Linked DNA regions of Homo sapiens. Changing the gene in region 1 together with any one later gene gives a genetic interaction. Each region holds a gene or a part of one and is shown in the gene's direction. Other genes may lie near its edges.

Region 1 (5,029 bases):
AAACCCCGTCTCTACTAAAAAAAATACAAAAAATTAGCCAGGCGTGGTAGTGGGTGCCCGTAGTCCCAGCTACTTGGGAGTCTGAGGCAGGAGAATGGCGTGAACCCGGGAGGCGGAGCTTGCAGTGACCCGAGATCACGCCACGCACTCCAGCCTGGGTGACAGAGTGAGACTCCGTCTAAAAAATAAATAAATAAAAGTTAGACACAGTTTAGAGGTACTTGTGCTGACCTGAATTCACTGAAATGCTTTTCCTACATCCCAGTGACTGTGAAGTGCTGACCACACTCACCCCAGACACTGGCCGTATCCTGTCCAAGCTACATACTGTCCAACCCAAGGGCAAGATCACCTTCTGCACGGGCATCCGCGTGGCCCATGTGAGTCCTACTGGGTTCCCTGGACCTTTCCTCCCTGCTCTGAGGTCCTGCCTCCATCATACTCATTTCTCCCCTGGAATCCTGAGCTAGGACCAGAGCAAGAGAAAGCTAACTTGGAGTAGAAAGGATATGGGGGATGAATCCCAGGGTAGTTGAGGGTTGTGAAGGGAAAAATCCCTAGAATTGAGAATTAAGGCTGGGCGTGGTAGTTCATGCCTGTAATCCCATCACTTTGGGAGGCCAGGGGAGGAGGATTGCTGAAGGCTAGCAGTTCAAGACCAGCCTGGGCACATAGGGAGACCCTGTTTCTCTAAAAAAAAAAAAAAAAAGGCCGGGCGCGGTGGCTCACACCTGTAATCCCAGCACTTTGGGAGGCTAACACGGGCAGATCACCTGACGTCACGAGTTCGAGACCAATCTGGCCAACGTGGTGAAACCCCATCTCTACTGAAAATATAAAAATTAGCCAGTACTAGGAAGGCTGAGGCAGGATAATCGCTGGAACCCGGGAGGTGGAGGTTGCAGTGAACTGAGATCACGCCACTGCACTCCAGACTGGGCGACAGAGCGAGACTCCATCTCAAAAAAAAAAAAAGAGAGAAAGAGAATTAACCTCCCTTCTTTATGCACAGAGAGTCATAGCAAAAAGGGAGGAGGTGGGGGTGTTAAATCTTGTGTGAACGTGATGGTAGATGGTGTACTTCAGGTACAAAGAAACTGTAAGAAAAAGGGAACCGAGTGACAGAGGAAAGAGCTGAGTGATTCCTCTGGTTAACTCTGAGAACTTCCTCTCCCTTTACAAGCTGGCTCTGAAGCACCGACAAGGCAAGAATCACAAGATGCGCATCATTGCCTTTGTGGGAAGCCCAGTGGAGGACAATGAGAAGGATGTGAGTCCAAGTGGCAGCTGGGGAATGTGGGGAGCCCATGTTTGGGACTGAGGTCTTCCAGCCCTCAGGAGAACCTGGCAGAGGCATCAGGCTCATCACTTTGGGGAAAGGTGAATGTGGAGAATTCAGTGATTCTGTTGGAGGACCTTGGGGAGGTCAATAGATTTCTGTATGCTTTTATGCGGCGGGTCCTTTCCCCCCCTCGAGTATGGAACAGATTTCTTGATTTTTCTCCCCTTCTTCCCAGCTGGTGAAACTGGCTAAACGCCTCAAGAAGGAGAAAGTAAATGTTGACATTATCAATTTTGGGGAAGAGGTGAGTAGGGACTGATTGGAGGGCATTGACTTAATTTGGTCATAAACAGAATGGTCCTTAACCCTGAGGAGTGCGGGTACTGTGGCAGAGTAGTGCAGAAATGGGAAAGAACAGGGAGCAAGGCCTGAAGAAGGGCATCATGTGTTCTTTCCTCCCCAGGAGGTGAACACAGAAAAGCTGACAGCCTTTGTAAACACGTTGAATGGCAAAGATGGAACCGGTTCTCATCTGGTGACAGTGCCTCCTGGGCCCAGTTTGGCTGATGCTCTCATCAGTTCTCCGATTTTGGCTGGTGAAGGTGGTGCCATGCTGGGTCTTGGTGCCAGTGACTTTGAATTTGGAGTAGATCCCAGTGCTGATCCTGAGCTGGCCTTGGTGAGCAAATGTTGACCCCAGGTAGAGTCCAAAGGTCCCTCTTTGTTCTCTTCTGGCACACACATCACAGAGCTTCTATCAGGCTGGATAGTCCTAGACACTACCAATCACTCATTTTCCAAGACCTCCTTTTGCCGCCTCTTCCCTATAATGCTGTCTGATCTCTAGGGGCACCAGTGTCAGATGCTTTCTTGTTCACTTCTGATGAAAACCGAGGCTTCTCCCAAGTCCTTACTTTTTAATCCCGTACCACTGCTTATCCCTCCAGCTTCTTCTCTGTGTGATAAACCAGAAGCTGCCCCTTTATGTTCCTTTCCCACACCCCAACTGACTTTCCCAGCTCCCTGTAGGAGTGAGGGCAGGGGAGCCCTGATTATGCCCTGCCCTTCACCAGGCCCTTCGTGTATCTATGGAAGAGCAGCGGCAGCGGCAGGAGGAGGAGGCCCGGCGGGCAGCTGCAGCTTCTGCTGCTGAGGCCGGGATTGCTACGACTGGGACTGAAGGTGAAAGAGGTGGAATCCGAAGTCCTGGGACTGCGGGATGCTAAACATTGAAAGCTGGGTGTAGGCACTGCAGGGAGAGTGTGGAGGTCTGACAGGGTAGGAATATGTGGGAGGGCTGGGCTAGGAATGGCCTTGGAGGCTGGCCTGTGTGGATATGGCACCAATTCTACCCTGCTCCTCTTTTCCTTTTCCCAGACTCAGACGATGCCCTGCTGAAGATGACCATCAGCCAGCAAGAGTTTGGCCGCACTGGGCTTCCTGACCTAAGCAGTATGACTGAGGAAGAGCAGATTGCTTATGCCATGCAGATGTCCCTGCAGGGAGCAGGTGAGCCAGAGCCTGGGTGGTGCCTAGGCAGAGGTTGGGGTGAGGAAGTGTAACTGAACAGACTGACCTCTCTTCCTCAGAGTTTGGCCAGGCGGAATCAGCAGACATTGATGCCAGCTCAGCTATGGACACATCTGAGCCAGCCAAGGTGAGACCCAACCCTGCCCCCATCAGGTTTAAAGTCCTTGAATTTAGATCCTCATCCCTCTGGGGCTGGGAGTATTTCTACCATAGCTAAGTCCTTTGAGGAGCAGAGGGAAACACATGGATTTGCATTTCTTACATGTAAACCTTGCTAAGGTAGCAATGCTAATGGTCAGAGTTGGAGAAATGTCCTCTTGTTCTGTAATTTTCCTTTCTTGCTGGTGGGAGCAGCCTGGGCAGTTCTCTAGGATGTCTTCCCAGGAGGGAAAAAAGCGGGTCTGGGAAAAAGAAAAAGGAGAACTGGGTGTCTTGAGAGCAGGAAACCTCAATGTGATGGCATCTGTTTTTCTCCTCAGAGCTCAATTAACAGAGTTCTCAGCAGGCCCCTCTATTTGGTTAGTAATAACTGCATTCATGCTGTATAAAGGATTTTGCTGACTTGTCCTTTCCTTACGTCGACCAGAGGTGCCCAGATCCCCACACAGTCAGAAGGCAGGGGGCCTCTGGCAGCGGCATGCTCCTGTCCTTAACACCTGCTTACTTCCTGCCGCTCCATACCCTCCCTTGAGCTCACACTGCCTGTTTGCAGGAGGAGGATGATTACGACGTGATGCAGGACCCCGAGTTCCTTCAGAGTGTCCTAGAGAACCTCCCAGGTGTGGATCCCAACAATGAAGCCATTCGAAATGCTATGGGCTCCCTGGCCTCCCAGGCCACCAAGGACGGCAAGAAGGACAAGAAGGAGGAAGACAAGAAGTGAGACTGGAGGGAAAGGGTAGCTGAGTCTGCTTAGGGGACTGCATGGGAAGCACGGAATATAGGGTTAGATGTGTGTTATCTGTAACCATTACAGCCTAAATAAAGCTTGGCAACTTTTTTTCCTTTTTTGCTTCAAATATTGATGGTTTTGAGTGTGAGAGAGGGGAGGAGTCCCTGGCCTGAAGGAGAACCTTCCTTGTTGAGTTCTCTATGTCTCTGTTTCCACCTGTCTGGGCCTCCTAACGTGCTGGGATTACAGGCCCAGGAGCCAGGTTTCCATTTCTAATGAACGAAGACCTTATTTAAACCACCTTCTTGCCAATAACTTTTACTCTGCACTCACACAGCTGAACCCCAAGCATGGAATGATACTCAACCTTTTCAGTTTTTTCATGTGGACTTCTGAGGTTCAGCAAGTTTAGGTTATTTGGCCAAGGATATTTAGCTAATGAAGAGGCAGAACCAGGATCAAAATCCAAACTTGTCTCAGACCTGTCTCGCCAGGAGTTGAATCACCACCAAACAGTAGTTTCCCATTGGTCAGCTGCCTTCAGTGACTCTGCTCAGCCCTGCAAGTCAGTTCCTTGTAGCAACTACTATACCTTCCTCTACTCCCCGATCACTCTCAACAGAAGCCTGACATCTTTACAGAGAGTCAAGGCCGTGAGGCAGGAAGTTCTGGCTCCCTCCCTCCTGCCAGCACCTCCCTGCATCAGTTATGCTGTCTCCTGAGTCTCTGCTGTCCTAAACACCCTGCTGGCGTTTTCCTCTCAGTGTACATGCATAAAATCCACTCTACAAGTAACCTTACCTTGAGACTTTATATTATACGGTTTAAATATTATTTTACAAGGAACATCTATTCCCTTTATAATTTTTTTTAAAGTTTTTTTTTTTTTCAGCCAGGTGCGGTGGCTCACACCTGTAATCCCAGCACTTTGGGAGGCCGAGGTGGGCAGATCACAAGGTCAGGAGTTTGAGACCAGCCTGACCAATATGGTGAAACCCCGTCTCTACTAAAAATAGAAAAAAAATTAGCCGGGTGTGGTGGCACACGCCTGTAATTCCAGCTACTCAGGAGGCTGAGGCAGGAGAATTGCTTGAACCCAGGAGGCGGAGGTTGCAGTGAGCTGAGATCATGCCACTGCATTCCAGCCTGGGCGACAGAGGGAGACTCTCAAAAAATAAAAAATTAAAAAATATATATATATATTTTTATTTATTTTAAACAAAGTCTGTGCTCTGTCACCCAGGCTGGGGTGCAGTGGTGTGATCATAGCTCACTGTAGCCTCAACCTCCTAGCCTAAAGGATCCTCCTGCCTCAGCCTCCTGCA
Region 2 (4,059 bases), on another chromosome or scaffold:
CACGCCTGGAATCCCAGCACAGGCCAAAATGGGAGGATCTCTTGAGCCCAGGAGTTCGACACCGGCCTGGGCAACATAGTGAAACCCCGTCTTTATTAAAAAAAAAAAAAAAGAAAGAAAAAAGAAAGGGGTTAAAGGGGTTGTAAAATTAAAAATTAGGGGATGGGTATAAATGATAGCTCAGGTTCGCCTGGTCACAGGAAGCCAGACTTGCCGGGGTTCAATCTGACCTCTTCTTTTCTAAAGAGCACGTAAAATAGTACGAAGTCAAAAAAGAATTAGAACTTCGCAGTGATAGTGGAAGCGCTGGAGGGCGATGGCGGGAGGGCGCGAAGGCCCAAGACCCTTTTAGTACAGTGTGGTACAAACAACCGAAAGGTCTCTGGAGTCGAAGAACTAAAAGGACGCCTAAGCGGTGTCCAGAGCTTAGCAACCTCGTGGTCTCTCAACCCAAAACGACGGGAAGAGCCCGAGCAGGGGAGGCTAAGAACGCCGTAGCCACGAAGCCAAGGAGCTAAAGCTGGCGTCGGTTTAACTCTTCCAGCGCCAAGAGATGAAAGGGGAAGCAGAGGGAAGCAGAAAGGAGGGAAGAAGATCCCGGGAGGGAACCGTACGGGCTGCCGCAAAACAGCTGGGAGCTTGAAACCCATGGAGAAGTCACTTCTCTTTCCCTCGCTGACCACTTCTGCCGGGAACGACCGGGACAGTCGCAGCCGAAGCGGCGGGGGCGAGTCCTCGGGGGAGACCGGGTCGGAGTCGGGGCCCCGTGCTCCCGGAGGGCCAATGACGCCGCCTTCCCCAGCCCGAGGCTCGCTCCTTTCTCCCGCCCTCACTTGCCTCGTCAGGCCTCCCCCAACGCCGTCCACAGCCCTTCCCAACCCCTAGGCGAATCCAGGTTCAAGACGTAGAAAAGCCGATGCTGGGTCAGCAGCGCCAGGGACTACCGGCCGGCAGAAGCCCCACAGTGGCAGCCGCCATTTTGGAGCTGGAGACTAGCGGCGGAGACGAGGAGGAACCAGGGCGAGACCATCTCCGGGGGGTGGGCACGGTGCTGTCGGAAGGCGACGGCGGTCACGCCTGCACGCCTCGTCTGTCTGGAGCGAAATTTTATTCAGAAATTATTGGTAATGTTTGGAAGCTAAAAAAAAAAAAAATGAGAGGAGTCAACCCTGAGGAGGAAAAAGTAGTATGATTTGCTGGCGTCACCCCTCTGCTCCGTGCGGGCGCGGCGAATGGCAGGTCCCGAGGTCGCAGCTTCCACTGGCGCGGGTTGAGTTCCCTGTTGCCCTTGGTCTCGGGGTCGCTGTAGGCGCTGAGGCTGCAGGTGGGTTTGGGGAGCCCGGGGGGCCGCCGCGACGAGGATCACGGCGACGGTGGCGGGGAGGGTTCTAGGCAAGCCCTCGGTGCTGTGCATGTGTGGAGGGGTGGTCTGGGCTTCCCCGGGGCTTCCGAACGAAGGTGACGGGAAAGGAAAATGGGGTTTTCTTCGGGTGGAGGATGGGATTTCCGGGCCGGAGCTTTTGGAAAGGGTTTTCTGAGGCTGTCATAACAGGAAAACGTCCGTAGAGATGTGACCCAGTGACCGCCCGCTAACCGGACTGGAGAGAAGACCGGCCCGGATCCCACGCCTGGCCTGAAGCAGGGAAGACGCTGCCTCCCCTCCGCGAGCAGCTTACATTCGTCCAAGTTCCAGCCTTCTGTCTTCTCGCTAACCTCGCTCTCTTCCAAATCGCAAATCCTCTTGAGCCGACACCGTTGCGCCTAAATGATGTGCTTACCCTTTTACTTTGCTTTTTTATTTTTGAGACAGAGATTCACTCTTGTCACCCAGGCTGGAGTGCAATGGTGCAATCTCGGCTCACTCCAACCTCCGCCTCCCGGGTTCAAGCGATTCTCCCGTCTCAGCAGCCCAAGTAGCTGGGATTACAGGCGCCCGCCACCACACCCGGCTAATTTTTTGTATATTTAGTAGAGACGAGGGTTTCACTATGTTGGCCAGGCTGGTCTCGAACTCCTGATCTCGTGATCCACCCGCCTCAGCATCCCAAAGTGCTGGGATTACAGGCGTGAGCCACTGCACCTGGCCCACCTTGCCTTTTAAAAGACAAAAGTATGGCCAGGCTTAGTGGCTCACGCCTGTAATCCCAACACTTTGGAAGGCCGAGGTGGCCGGATCAAGAGGTCAGGAGTTTGAGACCAGCCCGGCCAACAGTGAAACCCCATCTCTACTTAAAAATACAAAAATTAGCCGGGCGTGGTGGCACCTGCCTATAGTCCCAGCTACTCGGAAGGCTGAGGCAAGAAAATCACTTGAACGGCCGGGCGCGGTGGCTCACGCCTGTAATCCCAGCACTTTGGGAGGCCTAGGCGGGCGGACCACCTGAGGTTGGGAATTCAAGACCAGCCTGACCAACATGGAGAAACCTCGTCTCTACCAAAAATACAAAATTAGCTGGGCATGGTGGCGCATACCTGTAATCCCAGCTACTTGGGAGGCTGAGGTAGGAGAATCCCTTGAATCCGAGAGGCAGAGGTTGCTGTGAGCCAAGATTGCGCCATTGCACTCCGGCCTAGGCAACAAGAGCGAAACTTCGTCTCAAAATAAAAAAAAAAAAAGGAAAGAAAAAAGTATGAATTGTATAAGCATGCCAGTGTAAGAGGAGAGGCAGAAATTCAGTCTACATAGTCCTAGCACAGCTTAGTGCTAAGCACTTTTGTTGGCAATAATGTATTGTCTTTCTAGGATGTTGTCATATGTCTTCTTAGTCATTGTACATGATTTATTAGTTTAGTCCAAACGCACACAGGTGTATTTTGAATTCATCTGTATGCACGAATTTTTACAGAAAATTGGCAATCCAACTATGTTTTTATTGAATTGTGCAATTTATTTTCCACATGATGTCTATTACAGGTTCAGTATCCCTGATCAGAATGTTGGAAATCCAAAATGCCCCCATATGTGAAACTTGGGGCCACAAGTTTGAGACCAGCCTGGGCAACATAGCAAGATCTTGTCTCTACAAAAAAAAATGTTTAAAGAATTTTTTTAAATTAGCACCCGTAGCTCCAGCTTCTCAGAAGATTGAGGTGGGAAGATCACTTGAGCTCAGGAGTTCAAGACTGCAGTGGACTATTATAACTCCACTGCACTCCATCCTAGGTGACAGAGCGAGACTATTTAAAAAAAAAAAAAAGTTTCATATAAGATTACCTTCAGGCTATGTGTATAAGGTATATATAAAACACAAATGAATTTTATGTTTTAATTCGGTCCTATCCCCAAGATAGCTCATTATGTGCATGCAAATATTTCAAAATCAAAAAATCGAAAACACTTCGGGTCCCAAGCATTTCGGATAAGGAAAAACCTATAGTTCTATTCCTCCTCATCTACCTTCTGGAAACTCAGCATTTAAAAGCTTTTAAGTACCATAAACATCAATTCAGGAAGGGGTTTCTTAGGCATGGGCTATAATAGCAGCCAGAGCTGTAGAGTGAAGCTGAATTTGAACTCCAGCTCTGTACTTAATAGCTATTTGGATTAAGCTGTTTTCTTATCTGTAAAATGTAAATAATAGTTATTTCACATTACGTATAGAAATAGATGATGGCTCTGGTACCTAGTAACCTAGTAGTCTTTTTTTTTTTTTTGAGACAGCATCACGCTCTGTCGTCCAGGCTAGAGTACAGTGGTGTGATCTCAGGTCATTGCAACCTCCGTCTCTTGGGCTCAAGCAATCCTCCCACCTCAGCCTCCGAAGTAGCTGGGACTACAGGCATATACTACCACACCCAGCTAATTTTTTGATTTTTTGTAGAGACAGGGTTTTGCCATGTTAACCAGGCTAGTCTCAAGCTCCTAGGCTCAAGCGATCCATCCGCCTTAGTCTCCCAAAGTGCTGTGGTTACAGGCATGAGCCACCTAGTAGTCACTCTATAAAAGTAAATTTTCTTCTCCCTTTGCCTTTTTTTTTCTTTCTTTTTTTTCTGAGACAGAGACTCGCTGTATCCCCCAGGCTGGAGTGTAGTGGCGTCATCTCAGCTCACTGCAACCTC
Region 3 (2,398 bases), on another chromosome or scaffold:
AGGTTTTAAGGCTCCTCAGATGAGGTCTCTTATGCATTTGGAAAGGAACCTGGGACCTAGGGTTAAAGGACAGATCCTCTGCTTTGCTACAGTGTAATCTTGGACAGGTCATTCTACTTGGTCTCATCTGTAAAGAGAGGGGAGGGTCAGGGTAACAGTTGATAACTCATGGGTTATAAGGATTGAGTGAAATTGGAATACTCATGGCAATATTTATGCTATGAACAATAGAACCAACTAAACATTCAGTTTAATATTCAATGTTTAGTAGATTTATGGCACAATCCTGCATTAGAAGATTGTTTGGCCATTAAAATGTTTGCAAAGAATTCTGTTTTTGAGGTAGGGTCTTGCTATGTTGCTTAGTCCGGTGTCCAACTCCTGATCTCAGGTGGTCCTTCTACCTCAGCCTCTTGAGTAGCTGGGACTGCTAGTGCAAAAAATTGTTTTGTTTTAGGCTGGGCGCGGTGGCTCACGCCTGTGATCCCAGCACTTTGGGAGGCTGAGGCGGGTGGATCACGAGGTCAGGAGATTGAAACCATCCTGGCTAACACGGTAAAAATACCGTCTCTACTAAAAATACAAAAAGTACAAAAAATTAGCCGGGGGCGGTAGCAGGCGCCTGTAGTCCCAGCTACTCAGGAGGCTGAGGCAGGAGAATGGCGTGAACCCAGGAGGCGGAGCTTGCAGTGAGCCGAGATTGCACCACTGCACTGCAGCCTGGGCAACAGAGCTAGACTCCGTCTCAAGGAAAAATAAAAAAAAAAGGATTGTTTTGTTTTTTTGACAGGGTCTTGCTCTTCTCCCAGGCTGGAGTGCAGTGGTGTGATCTCGGCTCACTGCAACCTCTGCCTCCCGGACTCAAGCAATTCTCTTGCCTCAGCCTTCTGAGTAGCTGGGATTACAGGCGTGAGCCATGGTGCCCAGCTCCCAGCTAATTTTTAAATTTTTTTGTAGAGACAGTGTCTCGCTATATTTCCCAGGCTGAAAGAATTCTTAACAGCATGGATAGGATGTCCAGTAACAACAAAGTATAAGCACAAAACTGCATATGTCATGGCTACATCTTTGAAAAATCAAAGGCTGTAGGAAAATACATAAAAGATTATCCTGGGCTGGGCACGGTGGCTCATGCCTGTAATCCCAGCACTTTGGGAGGCCGAGGCGGGCGGATCACGAGGTCAAGAGTTCAAGACCAGCCTGACCAACATAGTGAAACCTCGTCTCTACTAGAAATACAAAAATTAGCTGGGCGTAGTGGCACGTGCCTGTAATCCCACTACTTGGGAGGCTGAGGCAGGAGAATCGCTTGAACCCGGTAGGTAGAGGTTGCAGTGAGCCGAGATCGCACCACTGCATTCCAGCCTGGGTGACAGGGCGAGACTCCATCTCAAAAAAACAAAACAAAAAAAAGATTATCCTCTTGTTGGCATTATAGGTGATTTTCTTCAGTCAGCATATATATATATATGTGTATGTATATGCACACACACACATATATACACACACATGTTGTACCTGAGCGAGTTAGAGAAAACGCCACACTTTGAGACGAATTAAGAGTCCTTTATTAGCCGGCAACCAAGAGACGGCTAACGCTCAAAAATCTCTCGGCCCTGAGGAAGGGGCTTGACTAACTTTTATACCTTGGTTTAGGAAGGGGAGGGGAACTCAAATGCAATAATTTTACAGAGGTAAAAACATGCAAGAATCAAAAGAAGCAAAATGGTTACAGAGAGATAAACAATTTAAAAGACAAATGGTTACAAAAAGCAACCGTACCAGGTGCAGGGCTCTAAATCCTTCATTATAATTAGATATGGGGCTATGCGGGACACAACTCAAGGCTTTATGTTGTTATCACTTTGAGAAAAATCCTGGGAACTTCATACATTGTTTGTGCCAGTACCTTATCAGTTAATTGGGCTCCTTTGAAATGCTGAGGATCTGCTTAACACAGGTCAACTCCTTGTGGAAGGGGGTTGGGTGAGGAGCCCTTAGTGTCTTGTAAATTAAAGGGTCAATTGGAGTTTGTCCGGCTTTCCCAGCTAGAGAGAGAGTCTTATTTACATGAGAAGCAAGGCTAGGTGGTTAAAGAGACAAACAGGGAAGATTCAAAGTAGTGAGTTAGAGTAAAAACAAGGTTAGGCATTTAACACATGTATGCACACACACATATATGTGTTTTTTGGTTGTTTTTTTTTTTTTTGTTTTTTTTTTGTTTTTTTTTTGAGACGGAGTCTTGCTCTGTTGCCAGGCTGGAGTGCAATTTCGGCTCACTGCAGCCTCTGTCTCCTGGGTTCGAGCAAGTCTCCTGTCCCTGCCTCCCGAGTAGCTGGGACTACAGGCGTGTGCCACCAATTTTTTTTTTTTTTTTTTTTAGTAGAGATAGGTTTTC
Region 4 (3,500 bases), on another chromosome or scaffold:
TGTATTCTGCTAGGCTTGATCCTTCAAGAGTTTTCCTTTTCTAAAACATCTTGGTAAAATTATTTGATCTCTGTTCTCTTGGACAGTGGCTAGCCTTACACTACCAGGCCCTTGGGCTGCTGTTTCTTGGTGCATGTTCCTTCAGCCTGTCCCAGAAGAATCTCCGTGACCCAGGAAGCAGCATAGTATCCCTTGGAATGAACCCGCTCTCTCTCTCTCTGGGGCATGACACTGCTGTAGGAAGAGCAGCCCCTTTGTAACTAGCTGTTTGCATCCAAAATGGGCTCACTTAGCCTGTCTACAAAAATAGCTTAGGAATACCTCACTGCTGGTATCTCCTCTCTGGTACAGATTGTAAAAGAGAAAGAAAGGTTCAGAAAAGCTCCACCCAACTACGCTATGAAGAAGACTCAGCTACTGAAGGAAAAGGTAAGGAGTTGTACTCGAGCCTCTTTCCTCATCCTGTAAGGAGATGTGGAAATCAAACTTGTTCATCCTCTGCCAAGTTAGTGGTGGTAGGATTGGGAGAAAATTCTGGGCTCGATTATAAGCAACACAGTGTGTTCTTGGCACCTGGGCAACGTTCCTTGGCCATTTTCCATTCCCTAAATTCAAACTCATCTTCTGCGTGTGTGCCAGTCTTCTTACTTTCTAGTCACTTCAGTTTCCTTTGTAATAAAATAGACCCTGGGGTGGTATTTAACACTGAGTCTGAACAGACAGATGACACTGTCAAGGCCACCTGTGGCTGGTGATTTTCCATTCTTCACACTGGGTTGGGGTGGGCCTTGTTATGGTGGTTTAGCCACCCTGTGAGGCCTGGGGTTCTACTGCCACCAGGGACCCACAGCCAGGTAGCTGTATGGGAAGGTGTTCCCCACTGTACTGTGCACTACTATAATATAAATTATATCTTGTATTTGTAAAGTACTTCTACAGTATTCTTCCACATCTCCTGTCCTTTGCTCACCACATGAGATATCTTTGCCTGTGCTGGAAGTAAGGGGATACTTGATATGGAGTCAGTTGTATGTAGCCAAGAACGAACTCACACATCTCTCTATGTGTAGGCCATGGCTGAGGACCTGGGGGATCAGGACAAGGCCAAACAAATCCAAGATCAACTGAATGAGCTGGAGGAACGGGCAGAGGCCCTGGACCGCCAGCGGACCAAGAACATATCCGCTATCAGGTGTGTTATGGAGCCTATTTTTGGCCCGCAGACCTTGGCCAAAATTATCAGGCAAGCCTGTGGCCTGTACACTCTGTGCTGCACTGACCCCATAGATATCTGAGTTCAGGGCTCAGTGGTTCCCTCCCTCCCTTGTTTCACAGCCACTGACTCATCCCTCTTACCCCACAGTTACATCAACCAGCGGAACCGGGAGTGGAACATTGTAGAGTCTGAGAAGGCCCTTGTGGTAAGAAAACTTTATCTGAATCACTAAAACAAAGTTAATTAATAAACCATGACATCTTTTCTACATCTTGCCTAAGTTTATTTTTTAATTATTGAAATAACGTAGGCACTTAACGTATACACACTCTCTCTGTATGTCCACGTACATCGATATAATTTATTCATAATGAAAAGCAGCAGTCTTCTGCCCTGTCCTACCTCTTCCCACCCTTAGATTCTACTCCACAGGTATTTGTTTTTTCTCAATTTCTGTTTCTTGGTTGTTTCCCCCATATCTACTCTGGTATTCTTGAAGGGAAAAGGATAATATGCCGGGCGCGGTGTCTCACGCCTGTAATCCCAGCACTTTGGGAGGCCGAGGCGGGTGGATCACCTGGGGTCAGGAGTTTGAAACCAGCCTGGCCAGCATGACAAAACCCTGTCTCTCCTAAAAATACAAAAATGAGCCGGACATGGTGGTGCACGCCTGTAATCCCAGCTACTTGGGAGGCTGAGGCACGAGAATCACTTGAACCTGGGATGTGGAGATTGCAGTGAGCTGTCGTGCCACTGCACTTTAGCCTGGGCAAGAGAGCGAGAATCCATTTAAAAAATAAAAAAAATTAGCCGGGCATGGTGGCTCACGCCTGTAATCCCAGCACTTTGGGAGGCTGAGGTGGGTGGATCACCTGAGGTCAGGAGTTTGAGAGCAGCCTGGCCAACATGGCGAAACCCTGTCTCTACTAAAAATACAAAAATTAGCTGGGTTTGGTGGCTTGCACCTATAGTCCCAGCTGCTGGAGAGGCTGAGGCAGGAGAATCACTTGAACCTGAGAGGCAGCAGATGCAATGAGCTGAGATTGCGTCACTGCACTTCAGCCTAGGCGACAGGGCGAGACTCCATCTCAAAAAAAATTAAAAAAAAAAAAAAAGGAAAAGGATAATAGCTTTTTTTTTTTTCAGTCCCGTGCAAAGACTTATTTGCCTGTGAGCTTATGGTGAATGAGAGGAGGGGCTGGAGGTGCAGTTCTGTGGTGCATGCTTTCTGTTTCAGGCTGAAAGTCACAACATGAAAAACCAACAGATGGATCCCTTTACTCGGCGGCAGTGCAAGCCTACCATCGTTTCTAATGTGAGTGCTGAAAGAGGACATTTTAGTCAGGACCTAGATTCTAGGACACAAAATGAATTCCATTAGGAAATTAATAATGAAGTTAAAAATAATGTTTTCTTAGCTGGGATTTGCTTGTCTGAAGCTCTTGGGTCTGGATACTTCCTTTTTTATCTTGCTATAGGACATATCGGTAGTGAAAACGTGGCATGGATTTATAAAAACCTAGTGACTGATCCTCCTGTATCAGGGTGGGTTTACAGTGCAGCAGACATTAGTAATGTGTCCCTTAGCTAGGGCCTGGCTGGGCTGGGCTTGGCTTTCAAGCTTGTAATTGCCTTTTTTTTTTTTTTTTTTGCTGCTTTGAGGAAAACCCCACTAGCTGCTGATGGGTCGGCTGTGGTGCTTGTGATGTTAGTTTGGTAGGTGGGAAAGAATCTGGCAGTAGGACTCTGTGAGTGTCAAGCAATCTCTAAAACAACTTATTTTCTCTCTCAGTCCAGAGACCCAGCTGTTCAAGCTGCCATCTTGGCCCAGCTGAATGCAAAATACGGTTCTGGAGTGTTACCAGATGCTCCAAAGGAAATGAGCAAGGCAAGTGTGGTACCACCCTGTTGCCTGCTGAGTGAGGCTGCTGGCTGAGATACCGAACAAGTACCTTGTCTAGTTTGGGCTTGATTTTTCCACCTTGAGGAACAGGGAGTCCCTCTTGGAGTCCCTTCTCCATCCCAGTTATTTACAGATATAATCAACAGACAACCTTAATTCCAAACCTGACACCACTACTTGCCTAGGGCCTTGACTATGTCCTTCAGCAGCTGGCTTCCAGCCCTCAGCATCCCCTTTTCTGCTGTGTAAAATGAGGGTACTACTGTATACCCTGCCAGCTTCACAGGAGGAGAGATAACATACAAAGATCAGACATTGTAAAAGTGAAAGCTTGTTGAAAATGGCACATTTAAAAGCAGTTTTCTTGCTGGGCGCAGTGGC

The links. Genes that interact genetically often act in the same process or in processes that back each other up.
Region 2: changes in PSMD4 (region 1) and NDUFB1 together harm fitness more than expected from each alone (negative genetic interaction), as found in Homo sapiens cells (one large-scale study listed by BioGRID).
Region 3: changes in PSMD4 (region 1) and EEF1G together harm fitness less than expected from each alone (positive genetic interaction), as found in Homo sapiens cells (one large-scale study listed by BioGRID).
Region 4: changes in PSMD4 (region 1) and RTF1 together harm fitness less than expected from each alone (positive genetic interaction), as found in Homo sapiens cells (one large-scale study listed by BioGRID).

What each region holds. Positions count from the first base shown.
Region 1 is NC_000001.11:151,263,649-151,268,677, forward strand, and holds the end of PSMD4 (26S proteasome non-ATPase regulatory subunit 4), read left to right. Parts: intron 1-265; coding exon 266-380; intron 381-1,183; coding exon 1,184-1,270; intron 1,271-1,517; coding exon 1,518-1,586; intron 1,587-1,745; coding exon 1,746-1,961; intron 1,962-2,355; coding exon 2,356-2,464; coding exon of another isoform or gene 2,465-2,473; intron 2,474-2,659; coding exon 2,660-2,791; intron 2,792-2,871; coding exon 2,872-2,939; intron 2,940-3,524; coding exon 3,525-3,695; 3' UTR 3,696-3,831; downstream 3,832-5,029. UniProt on the Homo sapiens protein: Component of the 26S proteasome, a multiprotein complex involved in the ATP-dependent degradation of ubiquitinated proteins.
Region 2 is NC_000014.9:92,118,907-92,122,965, reverse strand, and holds the start of NDUFB1 (NADH dehydrogenase [ubiquinone] 1 beta subcomplex subunit 1), read left to right. Parts: upstream 1-1,259; 5' UTR 1,260-1,324; intron 1,325-1,566; exon of another isoform or gene 1,567-1,770; intron 1,771-4,059. UniProt on the Homo sapiens protein: Accessory subunit of the mitochondrial membrane respiratory chain NADH dehydrogenase (Complex I) that is believed not to be involved in catalysis. Complex I functions in the transfer of electrons from NADH to the respiratory chain.
Region 3 is NC_000011.10:62,561,494-62,563,891, reverse strand, and holds part of EEF1G (elongation factor 1-gamma), read left to right. Parts: intron 1-2,398. UniProt on the Homo sapiens protein: Probably plays a role in anchoring the complex to other cellular components.
Region 4 is NC_000015.10:41,476,095-41,479,594, forward strand, and holds part of RTF1 (RNA polymerase-associated protein RTF1 homolog), read left to right. Parts: intron 1-351; coding exon 352-429; intron 430-1,070; coding exon 1,071-1,192; intron 1,193-1,363; coding exon 1,364-1,421; intron 1,422-2,453; coding exon 2,454-2,531; intron 2,532-3,008; coding exon 3,009-3,104; intron 3,105-3,332; exon of another isoform or gene 3,333-3,397; intron 3,398-3,500. UniProt on the Homo sapiens protein: Component of the PAF1 complex (PAF1C) which has multiple functions during transcription by RNA polymerase II and is implicated in regulation of development and maintenance of embryonic stem cell pluripotency.